2 linked regions of the Homo sapiens genome follow. The protein of the gene in region 2 interacts with the protein of the main gene of each other region in a pairwise test. Each region holds a gene or a part of one and is shown on either strand. Other genes may lie near its edges. The genes, in order: HTATIP2 and JPH1.

Region 1 (3,889 bases), on a different chromosome or scaffold from region 2:
TTTAAAGTTTGGTGGCATAGAATTTTACTGGCTATGTGAACATTTAGTAATTAATCACTAGAACAAAGGAGAAACCCAAATATTTCGATTTTGTTCATCCACAACATGTAGTAACAATCAACTGGAACTACCTGGAAATATACGGGAACAGAATGCTTTTGCAGGGTGCTTAAAAACACGATATATGGGATCTATGGGATCAGGCAGACCTGGGTTAGAATCCTGACTCTGCCATTTCTTTGCTTCAGTTCTTCAGATTTGGACTCTTGAGCAAGGCACTTAACCACAGTGAGCCTCATTTCCCCATCTAAGACATGAAGATCATGATAGTATCACTTTATAAGGATTGTTTATAAGAGGGTTAAAGCACAGATAACACATGTAAAGACTGGTACTTAGCAAGCATTTGGTAAATATTAGCTGCTATTATATCACCCCATAGGCTGAAATGCTGCATATCACACTACATGGGCATTTTCAAGCAATCTAAGAGGCACCCAGGAGTTGTCCATTCATCTTTATTCCTTTATTTAATCCTCCCCATGTATTATATAAGCTTAGGTATATAACTTCTATTACATAAAGAAGTAGTAAAGGCACAATGTTTACTTACACAATTACATGTAGTGAATTAGCACTTTTGTAACTCAGAGACATGAATGTCAACAATTTTAGAGCAGAGCTCATTTGCACGGTCATAAGGTTTTCATGGCTGCTGTGACTCTGCAGACAAGCATTTCAAAGCAGGCCCCCCAGCCAGTGGCATCGGAACCAGTGGCATCAGGGGAAGTATAAACAAAGAAAATTACAGATTATTGTGCCCACACCCCAGAAATTTTGATTCAAGTTTGAGATAGGGCTGACAAATCTTTATTTTTCCAAAGCTCCCTGAGTGATCTATATGTATAACCAGGCTCTGAACCACTGATGCAGAGCACCATCATTTCTTGATTGGAATGGATGCCTGAGGATAGTAAAACAACAAAGTTAAAACATGCTGACTTTTTTTAGACCCTGAAATTACCGATTTGGTGATGGGTGTTAAGGTTGACAATAAAAACCATTTCTCCAATGTGGTCATGGCTTGAGAGAGCCATGCGCTTTCCCCAGGTCATGGATGGCCTTGTTCTCCAGCAGTTCCATCTGCTTGTCTCTTGGTCTCACCACATTGTTCAGCATTGCTCTAACCACGGTCACCACAGGCACAGAATGCCCACTGGCCCAAGAGTCTGGTAAGGAGCCAAAGAACTTTCTAACCAGCCATTCACCTGGGCGAGATTCTTGCCTATCACATAACAGAACTCTAAAATAAAAAAAAAAAAAAAAGAAAGAAAAGCAGAGGAAGAGGTGGTAAATTGCACTGAGACCACAGTGGGCATTACGGACAAAACTGTATCCCCTCAATATTCTAATGTTGAAGCCCTAATCCCCAAGGTGTCTATATTTGAAGATAAGGCATTAAGGGAAGTAATTAAGTTTAATGAGGTCTTAAGGATGGAATAGGACTAGTGTGATGGGACTGGGGTCCTCATAAGAGGAAGAGACATCAGAGGTCTCTCTCTGTCTGCATACACTAAGAAGAAAGGCCATGTGAGGACACTGCCAGAAGGTGGTCTGTCTGCCAGCCAGGAAAAGAGGCCTCACCGGACACCAACCCTGAGGGCACCTTGATCTTGGACTTCCAATCTCCAGACTGCGTGAAAAAAAATTTCTGTTGTTTAAGACACCCAATCTGTGTGGTATTCTGTTATGGCAACCCAAGCAGACTAATACAGTAGACGTAAGGTTTTATTTGGCACATGAAGAGGATTTAAGAAGGCAGCAAATGCTGTCCAGGAAGTTCCAGACTATTCTGAAGCAGGCCCCACCATCTACCCTTTCTTTCTAAGCAAAAAGGTGTGTCCTTCAGAGAAGCAATCTACCTCTAGCCAATGTCTTTCATATCTTAGATATTTCAGCTGTCAGCCTTTCCAAATGAAAAATTAGTATCTAGGGATTAACCATCAGTGGCATACTCTCATTCAGTATAAATATTATACTTACCCAGGCCTAAATACAGAGTAACGATCAAATTTTAATTCTTCAACCTTGGCTTCTACTTCTCCCTATTAAGAAAAAACACATTTTCAGTATTTAATCGCGACCAGCTCACCTGTGTGAAGTTTAAGAGAGAATAATTTGTGGTTTTGAGATAATCTGCTTTTGCAGATCTCAATACTCAAAATATCCTTATCTAGAATTTTAGGTTCCAAGGAGTCTGGGAAATTAAGGAAGAGATCATTTAATCCTGATGTGTAGTCTTTCATTTAAAAGATCCACTAAATGAGTGAATGGCTGCATAGTCAGTCCTCTCACTTTATTGATATTAAAACAGATTCAGAGAGGGTAAGTCATACGTTAGTACAATCATAAAAGAATATCCTCTATTTAGTCCAGAATTCATGTTGCATGCTAGCAGACACTAACGTTTTTTTGGTTTATAGGTAGTTCCAGTGGGTCAGAAAACCATAGACCCACTATATTACTCACTTCTTAAACCTCACAAAATTTTAAGACAGATTACATCTAGATGATGCTTTAAATCTAATTTGTTAAATAAAGCATGCATTTTCATGGCAGGCATCTCTGGAAACAAAATGCCTGAGGAGCTCAGCCCACAGGCACTTCCAAAGGCCTGTGAACTACCACACGGTCATGCACGCCTCCTTCTTGGCCTGTGTGTACCACTCAATTGGCACTTAACCTGTCTCATCACAGACATTTAAGTAGCTATTTTTAAATATCTTTTTCTTTTTAAAAATTTTTTAATTTTAATTATTTATTTATTTATGTATTTTTTGTGTGTGATAGAGTCTCACCATGTCACCTAGGCTGAAGTGCAAGGGCATGATCTTGGCTCACTGCAACTTCCACCTCCCAGGTTCAAGCAATTCTCCTGCCTCGGCCTCCCAAGTAGCTGGGATTACAGGCATCCGCCATTATGCCTGGCTAATTTTTGTATTTTTAGTAGTGACGGGGTTGTCACCATGTTGACCAGGCTGGTCTCGAACTCCTGACCTCAAGTGATCCACCCGCCTCAGCCTCCCAAAGTGCTGGGATTACAGGCGAGAGCCACCGCGCTTGGCCATTCTTTTTTTTTTAATAGGTGGTTTTTAGTATATACACAGAACTCTGTAACCTTCATCACGATCTAAGTTTTAAAATATTTCATCACCCTGAAAAGAAATCCCATATCATTAGCAGTCACTCCTCGTACCCTACCCTCTGGGGACCTAGTCAACCACTAATGTACCTTCTATCTCTATAGATTTGCCTATTCTGGACATTTCATATAAATGAAATCATATAATTCGTGGTCTTTTGTGACTGTCTCCTCACACTTAGCATAATATTTTCAAGGTTCACCCATGTTGTAGTATGTATCATTTCTTTTTATAGCTGAATAATATTCTATTGCATGAATATATCACATTTTATTCATCTATTCATCAGTCGATGGCTATCTAGGTTGTTCCCACTCTTTGGCCATTATAAATAATGCTGCTATGAACAGTCATACACAAGATTTTATGTGTACACACATTTCTTAGCTTTTTTTTTTTTTTTTTTTTGAGATGGAGTCTCACTCTGTCGCCCAGGCTGGAGTGCAGTGGCGCAATCTCAGCTCACTGCAAGCTCCGCCTCCCGGGTTCATGCCGTTCTCCTGCCTCAGCCTCCCGAGCAGCTGGGACTACAGGCACCTGCCATCACGCCCGGCTAATTTTTTGTATTTTTAGTAGAGACGGGGTTTCACCGTGTTAGCCAGGATGGTCTCAATCTCCTGACCTCGTGATCCGCCCGCCTCGGCCTCCCAAAGCGCTGGGATTACAGGCGTGAGCCACCGCGCCCA
Region 2 (3,920 bases):
TGGAGAAACTTTTAATTGCATCCCTTTAATATCCTCCAACTCTGAGCTGCTTAATTCCAAAAAGTGATGTCGCCTCCTACAACCCTTTTCAACTAAATATGATTATGTTTATCAGGAAATGCACTTTGCTAAAGCATAAGCTATTCATGAATATCTTTCTCAGCGTATTACACAAGGAAATTCATCAGGTTTTGACACCTGTTTCAATAATGTATACTTTTCCTAATAAAAGAGGAACTTCTGTCCTGGTATATACACAATCTCTTTGGCAAATATTGTTAAATATTAAAATAAGGTGATCTTTGTTCACAGCCAGGAATACTGGCTTAGGTCACACATAATGCAAATTATTGTTTCAGTATTGCCATTCTCAGGAGTAGTAGCTGCTAACTTAGCAGCTATAGGAACACACCTGCTAATTGTATTCTTTAAAATGTAGACTTCATTACCCATTTCTAAAATATCTTCCTAGTAATTTGTCCAAGATCTCCAGGTCAGCAAAGACTGCTACTCTTTTAAGACCAATACTTTAAGAAACGGAATGAAAACTAGGAACTCACACACTCTGAACTCCACCTGCATCAGGTGGCCTTTCTGCTCCCATAACTAGGACGTTTCCAAATGCACCCCCAAATAAGGTACAATTCCCCAACATCCTAGTTACGGGGTTCTGGCTTCTATCTTTAGGCTACTGGAGGACCAGAAGCGAAATACGACTCCACGTGAAACCAATCCCGGGAGCGGTCAGCACGGACCGCCAACCTCACCCGCTCAGGGTGTTCGCTCTAACTCCACGGGAGTGGCGATTTCAAACCCGGCCGGGAGAGGGAGGGATCAGGAACGTAATGTGACGGGCTCAAGTGACAGCGTCCTCTCTCCAGCCCAACCCTCCCGGGCGGCGCTCCCTCCCGGTGGCAGCGCAGCGCTGGCGCCGGCCAGGTACATTCACGCCTAGCTCCCCTGAGTGTGGATACACGGCCCGCTCCAAGAACGGGGTCAGATCCAGCCCTCGCGCCCCAGTCCGGTCCCAGCGCCCTCTCTGGGAAAGGCGGGCGCGGGCGCGGGGGTGGGAGGCGCCCCCAGGTGTTTTGGCGGGTTTCCGGACACGTGCGCCCGGCGTCCTCCCCGCTTCCCCGCAGCCGGGGCAGAGCCCACCGCACCAGCTCGCGGAGCAGCCGAGCCGCCCGTTACGCCGCTCACCTCCGTCCCCGTAGGTCTCCACGCCGTACCCGTCTTGCAGCCCGTTACTCCAGGTACCCTCGTAGCGAGCGGGGGTGCACAGGCTCTGCCGGACCCCGTAGCGCCCCTTGAAACCATGTGACCACTCCCCCCGGTACATCCACTTGCCCTTCGTCTCCACCCCCAGCCCGTGCCGCTTGCCCTGCGCCCAGTAGCCCTGGTAGGTGTTGCCGCTGGGCCAGGTGTAGCCTCCGACCACCTCGAAGCCGTGCGACCAGGAGCCCGAGTACTCGCCCTGGCCCTTGGGCCCCGTGCAGATGCCATGCCCGTGCGCCTTGCCCTCCTCCCAGCCGCCGCAGTAGGTGCCGCCATCGTCGAAGTCGAACCTTCCGCCCGTCATTCGGGGGGCAGCCCCGGCGCGCTCCCCGCAGGGGCACGGACGCGGGCAGTGCTGGGCACGGCAGGGTGTAGCTCGGGGGTGGGGGCCCGGCGGGCGAGCTCACGACAGCGCCCTGGGCAGCTCGCGCTGCCGCTCGGCTCCAGTCCGACGCCGCCCCCGTCCTCCCTCCTCTTTTGCCGCCGCCACCGCCGCCTTCCTCCTCCTCCTCCTCCTCCTTCGCCGCCGCCGCCTGGGCCAGCGCCGCGCGCGAGAGGACAGCCCAGGTTCCCGAGCGGACCTTCAGCTGCTCCCGCCCGCCCACGTGAGCCGGGCACCGCCCCGCGCCCGCCCCTCGTCCCCTCCCCGGGCGCCGAGGCCCGGCCCCGCGGCGCTCCCGCCCCACCGGGCCCTGCCCCCAGCCCCGGGAGCCGCCGCTTCCTCGGCAGGCGGGCGCGCGCGGGGACCGGCTGGCGCGCATGTGTTCGCGCAGTGGGATGCCGGTGGGAGGGCGAGTGTACCCGGGGACGCACGAGAATCCCTGCCTGGAGATGAAGGCGCGGCTGCCTGTGTGGGGGCCGCTCGCGGGCGCCGGAGCCCCCGGTGTTTGTGTTTGGGGTTTTTCAAAGTGGTTAAGCTCCTGTGAGTGCGGCCACGTGTGTGTTGAGGGAAAACTCATTGTATGCGTGTTTGTCTGCATGGGGTTTGTAGTTGCATTGTTTTCGCATTCCAACTTGTGTACTGTTGCATTTGTCATGCTCAGCTGTCATCGTGAATTAATATCGCCTAGATATATGTATGCATGTGATGTAAATCTGCGGCAGCCTAGATATAATTGTGCAGAGTGTTCTTTTACACCTACCCGTTTCAAAGCACACGTGTTTGCATTTATTTAATGAAGACACTGAGGGTGAGCAGTACAGTTTGAAAAAGCACAGAATATATTGGTTAGTTTTTTATTAATAGTGATGAAGAGGATGTTTTCAATCGGCCTTTGCAGTGGTACAGGATATTCCTTTTACATTAGAGCCTGCCCCCTCTCGTGCCTCGTTTGTGCTTCTTAACAGCCTTAGAGATTCTTGAGCCTGGAGCTGTGTGCCCAACAGGTAGACGGCTCGGTCTGTGTACATTGTATAAGTGTCTGGAATGCACACCTCTCCACTGGTATCCACTGTTTAAGAAAGTAAATAGAGGTTTGCAAGGAGGAATATGGTAAGTAAAGCACTGCTCTAAACTTGCAAAGAAACTGTGACCTACAAAACCAGGGACAGATGTCAGCTGGTCTACTTTCTAGCTACAACACTGCTTTGTCGAATTCACTTTAGGCAACTCTTCTAAACTTTTAAACCTCCATTTCACCATCTTCTGAATGGGACTAACAAGATTTGCCTTTCTCTTTCTATATTCGGTAATAACTGAGTATATTGTGGCTGCAGTGCCAAACCAAAAATTAGAGATTTGGTAATAGGCAAGTTGGATCAGCATTGCCTCTGGTGAGAGAAAGCATTATTCTCCACCTCACCCTCAAAATACCCACGGGAGAAACTTCTCCCACTTTCACAGCCTAGGGTCTTAGTTTGGCCTCTCAAGGAAACTGATTTGGAGTGTATTCCTGCTATTTCTTAGGCTGAGAGGCCTTTGGGTGACTATGCGAGCATCAGAAGCTGCCAAAGGTTCTCTCACTAAGTATTTGATAATCAGATATAGATATAAGGACAGGTGTCAGGAAGACAGCCTGGGAAAAAGTAGACTAAACTGCACAGAAAAGGAACTGAAATTGACCTTGATTGCCTCTCTCTCAGGACGAGAGCCGACCTTTCCTACTTATCTGGCTGAAAGACTGAAAGAAAAATCTCAGTTTATGCAGAACCAAATCACCAAAGAGAATTAGAAGCCCTCATCCATGGCACTGCCCGCAGAGTTGCCAGGAATAGTGCTTACCCTAGTGGCCTGAAATAATTATGCATCTCTCGAAGCATCTTGTCCTGGACTGGGGATTGATTTAGGCCGCTGGGAAGATGAGGGCCAGGGCTTTGCGGCTGAGCCATAATTCCATTTCCCTGTTATGGGATACACCAGAATCAGGAGCTAATGTAGAAAGATGCATTCCCATATATTTTGAGGTTCTGTATGATATGAGAAAAAGTGTGGTTGCTCAAGCCAATATTTTGAATGGGGGAGTCTCTTTCTAAACTAGACTTCCTCATAGAGTAGTCTTTGTCCCTTTGCCTTTTTTTTTTTTTTGGATCCACCCAGTGTGTTAGGACCCATATATGTTCTTTAAGGGGATAAATTTTGGAAACCTTTATCTCTTTATTTATTACTCTTCCTAATTAGTTGTCATGCAAATGAGGGATTTTCTGGA

What was found.
Region 1: the proteins of JPH1 (region 2) and HTATIP2 interact in binary tests that used the Homo sapiens proteins (3 or more experiments, as listed by UniProt).

The regions. Positions count from the first base shown.
Region 1 is NC_000011.10:20,380,394-20,384,282, reverse strand, and holds the end of HTATIP2 (protein HTATIP2), read right to left. Parts: intron 2,106-3,889; coding exon 2,044-2,105; intron 1,304-2,043; coding exon 1,078-1,303; 3' UTR 501-1,077; downstream 1-500. UniProt on the Homo sapiens protein: Represses translation by preventing reactivation of elongation factor eEF1A. May also inhibit nuclear import by competing with nuclear import substrates for binding to a subset of nuclear transport receptors.
Region 2 is NC_000008.11:74,319,709-74,323,628, forward strand, and holds the start of JPH1 (junctophilin-1), read right to left. Parts: upstream 1,833-3,920; 5' UTR 1,580-1,832; coding exon 1,201-1,579; intron 1-1,200. UniProt on the Homo sapiens protein: Junctophilins contribute to the formation of junctional membrane complexes (JMCs) which link the plasma membrane with the endoplasmic or sarcoplasmic reticulum in excitable cells.